Regions from separate parts of the Homo sapiens genome. Here region 2 is linked to region 1. The links come from fine-mapping of genetic effects on gene expression. A gene starts in region 1. The other region holds a variant in brackets. All regions are shown on one strand. Distances are between the middles of the regions.

Evidence for each region.
Region 2: its variant is fine-mapped to the expression of PRR29 in whole blood (TOPMed, PIP above 0.99).

The regions. Positions count from the first base shown.
Region 1 is chr17:63,994,376-64,002,692 of GRCh38, forward strand. PRR29 (proline rich 29) reads left to right here and starts at 3,976. Exons shown (of 6, transcript NM_001164257.2): 1 at 3,976-4,049; 2 at 4,332-4,407; 3 at 4,593-4,699; 4 at 6,709-6,935; 5 at 7,092-7,162; 6 at 7,358-8,317. The coding sequence starts at 3,990. The coding sequence ends at 7,386. It overlaps ICAM2 (intercellular adhesion molecule 2), which reads right to left. Exons shown (of 5, transcript NM_001099789.2): 5 at 8,220-8,317. PRR29-AS1 (PRR29 antisense RNA 1) reads right to left here and starts at 5,524. Exons shown (of 3, transcript NR_126169.1): 1 at 3,950-5,524; 2 at 3,390-3,547; 3 at 1,696-2,888. RefSeq lists a silencer at 3,859-3,908 and an enhancer at 4,162-5,139.
Region 2 is chr17:64,015,824-64,023,823 of GRCh38, forward strand. ICAM2 (intercellular adhesion molecule 2) reads right to left here and starts at 4,810. Exons shown (of 5, transcript NM_001099789.2): 1 at 4,700-4,810. RefSeq lists enhancers at 4,430-4,549, 4,644-5,144, 4,890-4,979, 5,200-5,249. The variant C/T (reference allele first, on the strand shown) is at 4,663.

The DNA of each region.
Region 1 (8,317 bases):
CACAGTTCCATGGTTTCTAATAATGGCACAATATTCTTTTGAGTGAACTGCCTTAATTCACTCAACCATCCCCCTATTATTAGACATTGGGTAATGTTCAATTTTTCCTTTTTCTTTTTTTTTCGAGACAGAGTCTCACTGTGTCGCCCAGTGCAATGGCACCATCTCAGCTCAGTGCAACCTCCACCTCCTGGGTTCAAGCAATTCTCCTGCCTTAGACTCCCGAGTAGCTGGGATTACAAGTGCCCGCCACCAAGCCTGGCTAATTTTTGTATTTTTAGTAGAGACAGGGTTTCATCATGTTGGCCAGGCTGGTCTCAAACTCCTGACCTCAAATGACCCACCTGCCACGGCCTCCCAGAGTGCTGCGATTACAGGCGTGAGCCACCATGTCCTGCCAAATGTTTAATTTTTAACCCTTTAAAAATAACACTATGATGAACATTTTTTAGTATAAATCTTCTCCTATGTTTAGCTTATTCCCAGAAATAGATTTACCAAGGCAATGGGGAGGACTTTTAGCACATATTGTCTTGGATCACTAAAAAAAAAAAAAAAAAAAAAATCTGAAAAACAAAATAATCCAAAGAGGCCAACAAGAGTTCCTATTGAGAAGAAAATAAAAAAGAAATAGGTGGAGTGTTCAGTGTCTCAAAGAAAATAATAGCAGGCAAGTCAAATAGCAGGAAAGTAAGTCATCTCCTATTCTGCTGCGCTGATGTGAGATCTTCTATGAGCAAAATAGCTCAGGCAGATAAGTGTGTGGCTTTCCTTTCTTCATGGCAAATGCTTCCGTTTCTTTTGACAAATACATCGAATGGAATACCATAAGTCAGATAGTTTTGATCTCAGCCTTGTTTTTCAAAACACAAGCGGTTAACATGCCCTTTTACCTCTGAGGGATTGGAATGATCACCTCCTCCTGACTGTTTTCTACGGCCACCTCTAGCCCACTGCAGGCTTCCTTAGAGGGACAAGTGTGGCAGCCTCTTTGCTGGGCCCCCTGCCTCCAGCCTTGCTTCAGTTGAATCTATTGACCATTGTACACCCAAACTCATTTTCTTCAATGTCTATTTCAGTATTTCACATCTCTGAATGCAGATGTATCATAGAGCTACTTAAGTCCCTTTTCCAGGAGTTTTCAGTAGCCTGGAGGCAGATGTGGAGCGAGTAGGAGGCTGATGTCTTCGTTGGGATCCCCCAAAAGCAGACCCTGACACAGGCTTGGGGAGCAGTCGTTTCTTTGGAAGGAGATCCAAATGAGCACTACGAGAGAGTGGAGAAGGGACAGGGAGAGGAGAAAAGGCAGTAAAGTGTGTGTTTCTGAGCAGGTCACTGTGGGCCACCTGGGCACAAGCCCACAGGCATCACTGAGAGGCTCTGTGGGAGACACCTCAGAGTTGTCGCACTGAGACCAGGAGGCTGCGAGTTTAGCTATCAACTCCCATCCATTATTGCTTGTGGGCTGCTCCTGTGCCACCTTCTGGCCTGTCTTACCTGTGGCCAGGTGTCCTCAGGTGGAGGGGCTGTAGGTGAGGGCAGGAACCCTCTGCAGAAGACTCTAGGGGAGGCTGCGGGTCGGCCAACTCTGACAGCTGCTCCACAGTTGGATCTGTGTGTGTGTGTGTATGTGTATTCACACACACACACATGTACATACACACATGTATATGCATATGAATTTTTTTTTTTTTTAGATGGAGTCTCTGTTGCCCAGGCTGAAGTGCAGTGGCATGATCTCGGCTCACTGCAACCTCCACCTCCCAGGTTCAAGCGATTCTCCTGCCTCAGCCTCCTGAGTGTCTGGGATTGCAGGCACCCGCCACCACTCCCGGCTAATTTTTGTATTTTTAGTAGAGACAGGGTTTCACCATGTTGGCCAGGCTGGTCCCGAACTCCTGACCTCAAGTGATCTGCCTGCCTTGGCCTCCCAAACTGCTGGGATTACAGGCGTGAGCCACCGTGCCTGGACTTATGCATATGATTTTTAAAACAAAAATAAGATCTTACTATGCTTACTGATATTTTTGACTCAACTGTCTTGGACAACTTTTCACATCAACAGAGATATTCTATTCCCACATTATCCATGGTTGAATAGTATTCTATTGGGAGGATGCATCCCCATCAGACATTTGTTTGTTCGTTTGTTTTAGAAACTGGGTCTCACCCTGTTTCCCAGGCTGGAGTGCAGTGACGTGATCGTAGCTCACAGCATCCTTGAATCCCTGGGCTTGAGCGATCCTCCTGCCTCAGCCTCCTGAGTAGCTGGCACTATAGGCACAAGCCACCGCACCTGACCCCCTATCAGACATTTGTTACTTCTAAATGTGGTTGACATAAACAAAGGTGGACAAGAACAATCTTCCTGAAACATGGCTGGCCACAGCACTTGGTATCTCCCTTTTGCTTGAAACCCACTGATAGCTCTCCATTACCCACAGGGCCAAGCCTAAATTCCAAACCTTGGCATTCCAAACCTTGGCCTGTCCCTGGACCTCTGCTCTCTGCCCAGCTCCTCTTCTACAGTCAGACAGTTTGACCCACCGGGTCATCTCAGGTCCTGTCCATTCATACACCTGGGTCTTGGCTTGGGCTCTGTCCCCAGCCTGATAGCGCCCGTCTTCCCCTGCTGCTTGGCCCCATCAAGGACTGACTTCCTTGGAACTCCATCCCTCAGCGGTCAAGTCCTCTCTTTTTCATTATCCCCGGGGCGTAGTCTTATCTTTCTGCTCTCTTTCCATGGATACATTTTCACTTCCCAACAATGCTGGGACAAGTGACCATACTGCTTATGCCTCCAGGGTTCAGATGGCACATTGCACACGCAGACACTTCCTTGGTCAAGGTTTGTTGATGATGAGCAAAATGGCTTGTTCTCTTTCTACCTGGAATGAGAATGGAGATGGAGAGAGGCATCTCTGTGTTCTACTCACTGGGGGGCTGTGACCCCAGTGCCTGGATCTCAGCTTGTTAATGGCTGTTGAAGCCATAAGACCCATGGGGACAGTAAAGTAATGCCCACAAGCCTGCTCCCCTAGAGACAGGTACTACGGAGCAAAGGAGGAGGTGGGAATGGTCTTTCTGGTTCTTACTCCAGGACTGGCAGGAAGGGGAGCTGACATGGAGAGTGGGGGAAGGGCTACTCGGGGTGCTAAGCCCAGCTTCCTGTCTGGATTTTCCTTGACTGCTGCCGGGGGCCTATCTTAGGATGGTCACAGCTGCAGAAATAGATCTCCCCCTTCACCTGTTCTTAAGCAAGGAAGACCTTGCTAACTTCCTGTCAAAAGAACGCGTGCTTTGGTAACTTTTCCAGTACGGGAGACAGTACTGGGGACGCGGGTGCTGAAGTCACCACGATTTTCCTCGTCTGAGGAGCAGTGGCTCACCTTGGCCAGGAAACAGGGCAAATAGCCGCAAGGAGAGAGGCGAGAAGCCGGCCACGTGTTTCCAGCCAGAGTCCTCAGCCTCTTCCGTGAATTCGGGCGGTGTTTCCTTCCTTGGTCTGCTCCAGAAACCACTCTTTCCTGGCAGGAAGCCCCTCTCTCTGTCAGAGTGACAGGGAACAGACCCTTTGTCCTCCTCACTCGTCTGCCCTAGCCCCCAGCCTGCTCCTGCAAAAGTCTCTGTTTCTCCTGAACTTTTCAGCTGAGTCAATCGGGCTCTGGGACCCCGAAACCAAGCCTCCCCAGTCACTCGCTTATTCACTCAACAAACACACCCCCCTTCCCCGCACTAACCCAGGCCCAGTTCTGGGAACCAGCAAGGGGAGGGGAGGGGAGCCCCGAGCAGCGCGGCGGGAGGTGGACATGCCGGGGAGGAGACTGGCCTCCTGGTGGCGGGGGAGGGCTCCTGGGGACCCCAAGTCCGCGGAGGAGGAGACAGGAGGGAGCAGGGAGATGGAAGACCCAGGAGCACGGGCGGGCTCCGCGCATGCGTGGGAAGAGACCTTGGCGTCCTCGGCGTCGCCAAGGCAACCGGCGCCAGCCATGGCCTCTGGGGCGGGCGGAAGCTGGGGTCGCTCCCCACCGCAGAGCGCAGTCCCGACGGTGAGGGCTGAGCCCGGGAGCAGATCCTGCCTTAGCTTGGGAGACGGCAGAGTGGGGAGCTGTCCCTGGAGGGGCCAGATCCTGGAGGGGTGGGGGACGAGGAGAGACAGCCCCAAACCGAGAGGAAGAGGCGTGGCAGGGAGCAGGGAGGCCGCGGGGCGGGGAGGAGAGAACCTGGCCCCTGCGGGGTTAGGGAGGCCACTGGCCGGGGGGGTTGGGGCTCGCGACGTGTCCCCATCCATTCCCCCCACCCCACCTGGCTGACTCCGCGCACACCCCCAGCCCTGGGTCACCTTCCTGCAGCCCCTCTCGTGGGCCGTCCCACCTGCGCCCCCGCAGCCAGGCCGCGTGAAGGAAGGTGAGACTCCCGGGTCCCCCCACCCCACCCCCACCATCACCACCACTCACCCTCTTCTGCCTCGCACATCCTCTGGGAGTCCCCGCAGCACAACCCGCCAACCCATTCTTCACCCCCGGGACAGGGGTGTCAGGGGGAGGGGGACTCGGAGGCCCGGCGTGGGCTTGCTGAACCCCGCTTCCTAGACCTGCTGGAACTGATGATGCTGCAGAACGCGCAGATGCACCAGCTGCTGCTGAGTCGCCTGGTGGCTGGAGCGCTGCAGCCCCGGCCTGCCTCGCCCTGCCCTCAGGTGCGTGTGGGTGGGCCGCCGGGGTCGCTCACCTGTGGGTCCAGGGATGCGGATCCACCTGGGGTTCCTGTTCAGGGGGGAAAAGAACTGGGAGACAGAGGAGCAGGAAGCCAGCCCGTCTCTCTGGCTGGGGCTGTTTGGCATCTGTCATGTTTCAGCCTCCATGAAAGGTTGGGGCGGGGAAGAGACCCCCCAAAGTCCAGACCACCGAGGTCTTGTTTTCAAGGAGGTTTCCCTGTAGTGCCTCCCCCACTGGACTTAAGGCTCCAGGAAGGTAGGCACCCTGGTAACCCTGCCCCATGCATCATGAGCGTCTGGCCTGGTGCCTGACACCGTGTAGGGGCTCAGCTGATATTTGTTGAACGAGTGAATGAATAAATGAATGGTTAGGGATACAAAGCCAGGTTGGCTGTGATGGCACATGGAGAGGTACAAAGCACAAGTGCACATAGGGTTGGGGGATGGGGACAGGCTCCTTGGAGGAGCAGAGGATCTTAGAACCAGCCCTTGAAAGCCAGGTAGGATTTTGACCCTTGGAGGAGGCGAAGGGTGTGTCCCCCATCCAGGCTGGCAGGGGCAGAGTCAGGAGACAGAATGGGGGAAACCGTGTGCGGCAGTGTGTGTGTGCAAGAGTGTGTGTGTGTATGTGTGTGCAAGTGGGTGTCTGTGTGCATGCGTGTGTGTGTGCAAGGCTGTGTACATGCATATGTGTGTGCAAGTGTGTGTTCACGTGCGTGTGCAAGGGTGTGCGTGCACGTGTGTGCGAGCGGGTTGTGAAGGCAAGTGTGTGCGTGCAAGCAAGTGTGTGCGTGCAAGCAAGTGTGTGCAAGTGGGGGTGTGTGCAAGCGTGTGTGTGCATGCATGTGCATATAGCTCTAAGGCTGAGCCTTACTCAGCCAATAGTGGGCATCCTGAGGTCAGGAGAAGCAGGGACTGGGTGGAGAGAGAATGTTGTTCAGCTCGGAGGAGGCGGAGAGGGGTTCAAGGAATCCAGACAGAAGGAGACCCTGAGGAGCTACTGCCACCCCTCACCCCTGGGTCCTCAGTGATGACACATAGGTGGGTCCAGGGGCCGGGGGTGAGGCCGGGGACAGCTCAGTGGACTCCTGGCCCCAGCTCTGGGGGTCACACCTGGAATCAACTGGGTGGCCAAGTTGCTCAACGTCCTTGAGCTACAGGAGTAAATGTCTCCACAATTTGTTGTCCGCATGTAGTAAACGCTCAATAAACACAACCCATTCTTTTTTTCTTTTCTTTTCTTTTTCTTTTTTTTGAGACGGAGTCTCTCTCTGTCACCTAGGCTGGAGTATAGTGATGCAATCTCGGCACACTGCAACTTCCACCTCCTGGGTTCAAACAACTCTCCTGCCCCAGCCTCCCGAGTAGCTGGGACCACAGGCGCCTGCCACCACACCCGGCTACTTTTTTGTGTTTTTAGTAGAGACGGGGTTTCACTATGTTAGCCAGGATGGTCTCGATCTCCTGACCTTGTGATCCGTCCGCCTCAGCCTCCCAAAGTGCCGGGATTACAGGCATGAGCCACCGCGCCCCGCCTACACAAGCCATTCTTTTTTTTTTTTTCCTTTTTTTTCTTTTGAGATGGAGTCTCGCTCTGCCGCCCAGGCTGGAGTGCAGTAGCTCGATCTCTGCTCACTGCAAGCTCCGCCTCCCGGGTTCACGCCATTCTCCTGCCTCAGCCTCCTGAGTAGCTGGGACTACAGGCGCCCACCACCATGCCCAGCTAATTTTTTTTTTTTTTTTTTTGGTATTTTTAGTAGAGACGGGGTTTCACCGTGTTAGCCAGGATGGTCTCAATCTCCTGACCTTGTGATCCGCCCGCCTCGGCCTCCCACAGTGCTGGGATTACAGGCGTGAGCCACCATGCCTGGCCACAAGCCATTCTTACAAAGCCTATCTGGAGGAAATAACTTAGGGGAATGGAGGAGTGGCGGTGGGGAGAGCCTGATGGTAGATTCTCATTTCCCCTCCCTGTTTTGCACAATCCCCAGGTCTACCTGGAGGTTCCACAGGAAGAGCCTGAGGAGGAGGAGGAGGAGATGGACGTGCGGGAGAAAGGGCCTTTGGTGTTTCACCACCACTACTTGCCCTATTTGATGCCCTCCCCGGGTGCCCTGCTGCCCTGGCCAGCCCCCTTCTTCCCCACCCCTGCTTGTCAGCCCTACTTGCAGGACGTGCCCAGGATTCAGCACTGTCCTGCCTCCAGGGAAAGGGAGGTGTAAGTGAGGCTGGGTGCTGCCAGGGTTCTGCTCTGGGCTGGAAGTTGCAGAAGAGCTGTGCAGGGGCTGGTGGTCGGTGGAGATAACTTGTGGGTGAAACTCCAGAGGCCACCCCTGGGCCTCTGATGGGGGTCTTTTTCTTTCCCCCATCTCAGGAGAGCTGTGCCCCCACCCCCACCCCCCAGTGCCACAGGGACTGTGGGTGCTGATGTACCCCCGGCTTCAGGTAGGGCTGGGGTGGTGGGCAGCGGGGCCCAGGCCTGGGAGTGAATCAGGAGGCCAGGAGGGCCCTGTGCCCTCTGGTGGGGTTTGGGGGTTTCCTAACATCACTGCTGCAGGCAACTGGCCTGTCCCCTTCCCTTTACCTCTTTGGGGTCCACTGAGACAGGAGGGAGTCAAGATGAGGTTCTTGTTTCCCCAGACTACTATGATGCCGAGAGCCTCCTATGAGGACAGACCCCGGCCCTGGGAACTGCACCAGCTTCCTGCTCTGGATACAGCCCCGGAGCCGCCTCCTGCACCTCTCTTGTCGACTCCCCGGTGCCCATGGCTGGCAGTCCTTCTCACTCCCTCAACCTCAGCCAGGCCCTCTTCTCCTGGGGAAATCAGTCCCTGCCCCACGCCAATGAGTTCCTGGACGGGCCGGATCTGTGCTGTTGTGTAAGAGCTCCCTAGAGCACCACCCAGGCCCTTGAAGCCACGTCAGCCCGCCTCTGCCCCACTGCTTCCTGCCTGGAGCAGGGGGAGGCCTGGGAACAGAGCCCCCACCCTCTCTCCCTCACCCCTCTCTCTGGGATGATGAGGTCTCCTTCCAGCCTAGTAATGGAGCAAGAGGGGAGGGGGGGATTCCTTCTGCTTTCCACAGCTTTGAAGGCCCCTTTGAGGTGGCTGGAGGGGCCCAGAGTGGTCGGGGAGAGACTTTGCTGGGCAGCGCCCCTGAGCAGAGTCAGTTCGCTGGGCCCCCCACCCCTCATCCCAGGAAGCAGCTCTGTTGGCAGAAAGGAGAGGTCAGAGCTTTGTCCTGCTGTGGCCAGGAGTGGCCTGAGGTCTCCTGGGGCCAGGTGGGAACAGTGTGTCCTCTGCCCCCTGGGCCAGGGTGTGTTTCCCCCACCCTCCCTCAGTAGCAATGAGCTACTCGGGCCAGATGGGGGCCTGTTGCATGGGCTGGGAGGCCCCTGTGAAGGAGAGGGTGGGGAGGGAGGCATCTAGGGAGAGGGGTCCCCCATGGTGGCTCCCCTCCCTGGCCATTGTTATCCCAGGAGGAGACACTGTGGGCACAGGGCTAAGTCCAGGTGTTTGTATTCGGGCTAGAAAAGGCAATGTCCCAAGTCTCTGCTGCCTGTCACAGTCCTTCAGCCAGGGCTGGACCTCAACCCTGAGG
Region 2 (8,000 bases), 21 kb after region 1:
TTTGCAGAAGTTCAAGTAAGGGTAACTCTTTAAAAAAAATTATTATTATTATTTTTTTTAGAAATGGAGTTTTGCTGTATTGCCCAGGCTAGTCTCAAACTCTTGGGCTCAAGAGATCTTCCTGCCTTAGTCTCTTGAGTAACTGGGACTATAGGCATACAGCACTGTGCCTGGTTAGTAATTCTAATTTTATAAAAACTCTCTCTGAGAATGGAAAAAATGAAAACATTAACTCTTTCCATGAGGCCAGTGTAACCTTAATATCTAAACAAGACAAGTACAGGAAGAGAAAGCAATATTAGAGGCCAGTTTCACTCATGACTATAAATGCAACAGTTATAAGAAAAATACTGGTAAATCAAATCCGGCAGTGTAAAAACCAAAAGGCATCACATTCTAGTTGGGTTTATCTCAGGTTTGCAAGGATGGTTTAACAACGAAGAAATGTCTATAAACATTATTTATTATGTTGGTAATAGTAGACTTTGGTGCTCTGTGTCATATCACTTCTGCCCTCTGCTGATTTCAGCTGTCCCTACAGTGGATGATTTTGTGCAAGCCTAGACTCCCTTTTAAGCTGCCAGTGCCCCTCCACCTACCCCCAAACTTATACTATGCTTCTTTTTGCTTTTCGTCTCAGGGTCTTCTTCAATGCTTTAGGAACAATTTACTTGCCAGCTAGTGATTCCCAGAAGTGTGGGAGAGTTAAGGTCCCTAGAATGCGATCCTTACCCAGTTGGGGAACAGGAGCCAGTGGATATACTTTCCAGCCTCCTTCTTGCCAGTGGGCAATTCTGAGAGACATCCTGTAGTTTTATCAGAGGTCTCAGCAGAATAAGCTTCCGTCGCCTACAGCTGCAACATCAGTCACCCTCCTTTAAATGGGCTTTTCCTTCCTTCCTGTCTGTTTTCCCTGCTCCTTCACCCCCTGCTTCCTGGAATCACCTCTCAAATAACCTATCTGAATCTAAGTCCTTGCTCCAGCCTCTGCTTTGGAACAAAGGATTCTGCTTTAGAGCAAAAGGAGACCAAACTAAAACTTACATTAACAGATTTAAAAAGAAAAAACATACGATAATATCAACAGATTAAAAAAATTGACAACATTCAACACCCTTTTATGATACAAGCTCTTAGCAAATTAGAAGCAAATGTCCTTAACCTGATAAAGAAAACTTACATAAAACTTCTATGTTGTTTTTAATGAGTAAATCTTAGGAGAATTTCCTTTAAAATCAGGAAGAGACAAAGATGCCTATGATTTCTGCCTCTGTTTAATATTGTACCAAAGGTCTTACACATTGCAGTAAAAGGAAAGGAAGGAAGGAAGGAAAGGCGATCAAAACCATCGGTATTTGTATATGGCGTGACTACCCAGGTAGAAAATCCAAAAGAATCATCAGGCAAGTGACTCAAAGTAATAAGAGATTTTAGCAAGGCAACTAGCTAAAAGATCAATATTCAAAAATTGGTTGTTCTTGTGTGTATCAGTAACATACAAAAACATAATTTAAAAAATACATCAATTATAACAGTCAAAAAAGTAGAGCAAGAAAACTAACAAAACCTAGAACTATAAGACCTATAGTAAGAAAATTATAATACTTTATTGAAAAATATTAAAGACAATCTAAATAAATGGAGAGATAACACATGTTCATGGATAGGAAATTCAATATTATAAAGATGTAAATTATTCTGTAACTGATCTATAGGGTCAGTGCAATTCCAATTAACCCCAGTAGGGTTTTTCATGGAAACTGAAAGCTGATTTTAAGGTTTATATGGAAGAACAAAAGAACCAAGACGCCCCTAAAGGAAATGAATAAGGTGAGGGATTTGCTCTGCTAGATATTAAGACTTTCTGTAAAATATGGTGTTAGCGTAGGTATAGGCAAATTAACTGATGAAACAGAATAAAGAGCCCAGAAATACACCTATGCTTGTTTGAAACTTTGATGCATGACAAAGATGACATAGAAGATCACTGGGTAAGAGAAGAGCCTGTTAAATGACACAGGATCAATTGATTAACCATATAGAGAAAAAAAGGGGAAAATGTATCCCTATCTCACACCAAATATAGAAATCAATTCCATTTAGATTAAGGATTTATATGTGAAAGAAACTCTTTATAAGAAAATGTAGGAGAGTATTTCCATATCCTTGGGGCAAGACCTCGAAATTGTCAATCATAAAATCAACAATTGGTATCTTTGACTAAGATACAAAGAAACAGGTCGGGTGCGGCTGTGACGCCAGCACTTTGGGAGGCCGAGGCGGGCTGATCACGCGGTCAGAAGATCGAGACCATCCTGGCCAACATGGTGAAACCCCATCGCTACTGAAAATACAAAAAAATTAGCCAGGCATGGTGGCGGGCACCTGTAGTCCCAGCTACTCGGGAGGCTGAGGCAGGAGAATGGCGTGAACCTAGGAGGCGGAGCTTGCAGTGAGCTGAGATCGCGACACTGCATTCCAGCCTGGGTGACAGAGTGAGACTCTATCTCAAAAAAAAAAAAAAAAAAAAAAAAGACACAAAGAAACATTTCAAAGAAAAGGAAACATGTCTAAACAAGTGAAAAGATTATTTAGCTCGAGTAGCCAGGGAAATTAAAATTAAAATTACAATGGGACCGATACTATTTTATATGTATTAGGTTGGCAAAAGTTAAGAAATATGACAAGACCAATTGTTGGAGAGGCCGTAGGTTAATAGGCACCCTTCTAACTGCTGATGAGAGTGTATATTGGTGCTCTCAGAGATAATTAGGCATTATCTTGTAAACGGAATATTCTTATACCCTGTAACTCACAGTTCCATTCTTAGATGTATGCCCTAGAAACGCTGTCACACTAAGAACCAGACATGTCTTTGTGTTTACTTCTCTTTTTTTTTTTTTTTTTTTTTTTTTTGAGACGGGGTCTCGTTGTGTCGCCCAGGCTGGAGTGCAGTGGCGCGATCTTGGCTTACTGCAACCTCCACCTCCCGGGTTCGAGCTATTCTCCTGCCTCAGTCTCCCGAATAGCTGAAACTACAGGCGTACGCCACCACACCCAGCTAATTTTTGTATTTTTAGTAGAGATGGGGTTTCATCTTGTTGGCCAGGACCGTCTCTATCTCTTGACCTCATGATCCTCCTGCCTTGGCCTCCCAAAGTGCTGGGATTACAGGCATGAGCCACTGCTCCCGGCCTTACTTCTCACTATCTGTGTGACCTTGAGCAAATCACTTAATCTTTCTGTGCCTCAATTTCCTCATCTGCAAAAAGGAATCAATAATAGTATCTTCCTCATAGGGTTTTTGTGCAGATTAAACAAATAAAATAAGTAAATATTTTAAAGCATTTAGAACAGTGCCTAGCACACAGTAACGCTATATAACTGTTTCATAAAATAAAAATAAATAGGCATAGCCAGGTGCAGCAGTTCAAGACTGTAGTCCCAACTAATCAGGAGGCTGAGGTGGGAAGATCACTGGATCCCAGGAGTTCGAGGTTGTAGTGTGCTATGATCATGCCTGTGAATAGCCACTGCACTCCAGCCTGGGAAATATAGTGTGACCCCATCTCAGTAAATAAATAAATAAATAAATAAATAGAGATGCATATGTAATAAAGCACTTAAAAATAAGAGAACAATAAACACAAAATTCCAGAGGGTGGCTACCTGTGGGTGGGAGGCAAGTAGCATAAAAGTGGACAAGTGGTGGCCAGGTGTGGTGGCTCACGCCTGTAATCCCAGCATTTTGGGAGGCCGAGGTGGGCGGATCATGAGGTCAAGAGATCGAGACTCTCCTGGCCAACATAGTGAAACCCTGTCGCTACCAAAAACACAAAAATTAGCTGGGCATGGTGGCATGCGCACCTGTAGTCCCAGCTACTTGGGAGGCTGAGACAAGAGAATCGCTTGAACCCAGCAGGCGAAGGTTGTGGTGAGCCAAGATTGTGCCACTGCACTCCAGCCTGGGCGACAAGAATGAAAACTCTGTCTCAAAAAAAAAAAAAAAAAAAAAAAGCAGATAAGTGGTGTTTGCAGTTTGGTGATACTCCATCCTTGTGCTGAGTGGCAGCTTCAGGTGTGTTTGGTATATTACTGTGCAGTATGATGTATATGTATGTTACATAAGCTTTTTATGCGTTACCTAGTAAATTTTACAAAAATAATAAAAGGGAAAAAGGGCCTTTCTACGTGCCTAGAAAGAAGAGGCTTCATGGGAATGTGAGCCATGGGTTAGGAAAGACCCCCTCGAACCGAGGCAGGTAGGAAGTGAGTGACTGAGATTCATTATGAACCCACCACGCCTGCCGGGGAGAACAGGGACTGTCCCTTCCCCTCTGCATCAGCTCAGATGGTCCAGATCACAGCCCACGTGGGCCCCTAAATAAGGAGGCAGCCCCACATTTCTACATCGGCCACCGAGATGGCAGAGCAGAGGAAGGAGAGAGGGGAGACAAATCAGGAAAGGAGCGCCAGGGCAAGTGCGTGAGCTCAGAGACCCAGCAGGGCAGGGCAGGAGCTTCACAGAGTGCAGAATGTCGAGCCACAGGAGCGCTGGGGATTCCCCAACCCCTGCACTTACCAGCGAGAAACTGAGACCCAGAGAGGGGAACGGACTAAAACTCAGACCTCGACACTGCCAAAATCCTTCCCATGCTGCCA[C/T]GCTTCATTGGAGGGAAAGTGAGAAGCTCAACCTTACCCCTGTGGGCTCCAAGAAGGGTAGCTCTGGGATCCCGGGCAGGAAATTGGTGACAAGGTGACAAGGTGCGCGTGTCACAGCTGCCCAGTTCACGGCTTATTCAGTCTTCTCCCTCCCCCCACTCCCCACCAGAAGTGACGTGCTTCCTGTGCCCCGGTTCCCACCCTAAACTAGCCTCATTTAGCTCCACTCCCATTCCGCTTTTTTTTTTTTTAATTGTGGTAAAACGTACACAACAGAATTTACCATTTCAATTTTTTTTTTTTTTTTAGACTGAGTCTCAGTCACCCAGGCTGGAGTGCAGTGGTGTGATCTCGGCTCACTGCAACCTCTGCCTCCCGAGTTCACGTGATTCTTGTGCCTCAGCCCGCAGAGTAACCGGGACCACAGGCACCTGCCACCACGCCTGGCTAATTTTTGTATTTTTAGTAGAGACAGGGTTTCACCATGTTGGCCAGGCTGGTCTCGAACTCCTGACCTCAAGTGAACTGCCTTCCTCGGCCTCCTAAAGTGCTAGGATTACAGGCAAGAGCCACTGCGTCCAGCCAATTTTTTGTTGTGTTGTTTTTAAGACAGAGTCTTGCTTTTGTCACCTAGGCTGGAGTGCAGTGGCACAATCACAGTTCGTGGCAACCTCTGACCCCTGAGCTCAAGTGACCCTCCCTCCTCAACTTCCCAAGTGACTGGGACTACAAGTGTGCAGCCACCAGGCTTGGCTAATTTCTGTAGTTTTTGTAGAGACAGAGTGTTGCTTATGTTGCCCAGCCTGGTCTCAAACTCTTGAGCTCAAGCAATCCTCCCACCTCAGCCTCCCAAATGCTGGGAATGAGCCACCGTGCTAGGCCCATTTTAATTATGTTTAAGTGTACAGTTTGGGGCACTAAGTACATTCACATTGTTCTGCAACCATCACCACCATCCATCTCTGGAGCTCTCTCTTTCTCTTTTCTTTCTTTTTTTTTTTTTGAGATGGAGTTTCGCTCTGTTGCCCAGGCTGGAGTGCAGTGGTGTGATCTTGGCTCACTGTAACCTCTGCCTCCCAGGTTCAAACGATTCTCTTGCCTCAGTGTTTTTGTTGTTGTTGTTGTTGTTTGTTTGTTTGTTTGTTTTGTAGAGATGGAGCCTCACTCTGTCGCCCAGGCTGGAGTGCTGGAGTGCAGTGGTGTGATCTCGGCTCACTGCAACCTCCGCCTCCCGAGTTCAAGCAATTCTCCTGCCTCAGCCTCCTGAGTAGCTGGGACTACAGGTGCACGCCACCACGCCTGGTTAATTTCTTTTGTATTTTAGCAGAGATGGGGTTTCACCATGTTGCCTAGGCTGGTCTCAAACTCTTGAGCTCAGGCAATCCGCCCGCCTTGGCCTCCCAAAGTGTTGGGATTACAGGCATGAGCCACCGTGCCTGGCCTTGCCTCAGCCTCTTGAGTAGCTGGGATTACAGGCACGTGCCGACTGGCTAATTTTTGTATTTTTAGTAGAGATGGGGTTTCATCATGTCGGCCAGGCTGGTCTCGAACTCCTGACCTCAAATGATCCGCCCACCTCAGCCTCCCAAAGTGCTGGTATTACAGGCATGAACCACCACGCTTGGCCAGAACTGCCTTCCTTTTGAAGGCTGAGCAATATCCTATTGTGCGTGTGTGCCGCATTCTGTTCATGCATTCATATACTGATGGACACCTGTGTTGCTTCCACCTTTGGCTATTGTGAATAGTGCTGCTACAAACAGGGTTGTACAAATACCTGCTCAAGACTCTGCTTTCAGTTCTCTGGGGTATGTACCCAGAAGTGGAAATGCTGGATCATAATGGTAAAATATACACAACAAAATCTACCATCTTAACCTTTTTTCTTTTTTTTTTTTAGTGGTAATTCTGACTGGGCTTGGTGGCTCACACTTGTAAATCCGGCACTTTGGGAGGCTGAGGTGGGAGGATTGCTTGAGTCTAGGACTTCAAGACCAGCCTGGGTGACAAAGTGAGACCCCATCGCTACAAAAAAAAAAAAAAGTAATTTTGTTTAATTTTTGAAGATTTGCCATCCTGTTTTCCTTACTCCTCCCTTTGATGTGCAGTTTCTGTACTCACTGGGGCCTTCTGTGAATGAGGCAGTTCCAGGACAAGCTACCTTCTGGTCCCCCAAGTGAGGCAGGCGAAGATCACAGAGCTGAGGCTTCCTTGGCTGTGACACACCATTCCAAAAAAGCCTCTTATTAGTGACTAAGACCTATCACTTCATCAAATCTTATCAGACCTGCCACCTTGCCTAGCAATTTTACAACAATTACTCTAGAAGAGTGACTTTGTACAAACAAGCAGAAAGTATGAACACTGGGTGCAGAGGTGGGTGGCGGGCAGCCAGCTAGGCTCACCCACGAGCAGAGGATCTTGCTCCCACGGGCCAGCCTCACAGCACATTGAAACTTCTGGCTTAGCAAAGTCACAAATTAGACCATTCAGAGGCCAGGAGGACAGTCAAGGCCACACATTGCTCTGGCGCAATTTCTCTTGGTGCTTGTGTGCATCAATTTCTTCAGCTCAGTTCTTTTTGGAATCTCCTTGTCATACTGCTGGCAAAACAGAGCCAATATAAAATGACTATGGTGGGAAGGAGGCAGCAGGGCCCAGAGCTTTGAAGGGCCCACGTGACTTTAATGTTTTGGTGGCATCTGTCATAGACACAAATGGGGGTGGATGTCCCATTTGGGACAATTTCTCCAGGAGCCATGTTTGGACTCACCCTTTTTTAAAGATAACCCCTTCTTTTTCTACTTTAGACAAGTTTTTTGGGAAGCTTCCATCTTCCTACTCAGCTCCACCTTCCTGGTCAAATGATTGGTCCAAGGTTGGCATCATGGTACCTCACCTTCTGGCTCTTTCTTTTTTTTATCCTTTTTTTTTCCTTTCTTTTTGAGACAGAGTCTTGCTCTATCGCCCAGGCTGGAGGACAGTGATGGTGTGATCTCAGCTCACTGCAACCTCTGCCTCCCAGGTTCAAGGGATTCTCCTGCCTCAACCTCCTGAGTAGATGGGATTACAGGCATCTGCCACCATGTCCACCTAATTTTTGTATTTTTAGTAGAGACGGGGTTTCACCATATTGGCCAGGCTGGTCTTGAACTCTTGACCTCAAGTGATCTGCCTGCCTCGGCCTTCCAAAGTGCTGGGATTACAGGAGTGAGCCACTGTGCCTGGCCAGAACTGCCTTCCTTTTGAAGGCTGAGTAATATTTTATTGTGCGTGTGTGCTGCATTCTGTTCATCCATTCATATATTGAGGGACACCTGTGTTGCTTCCACCTTTGG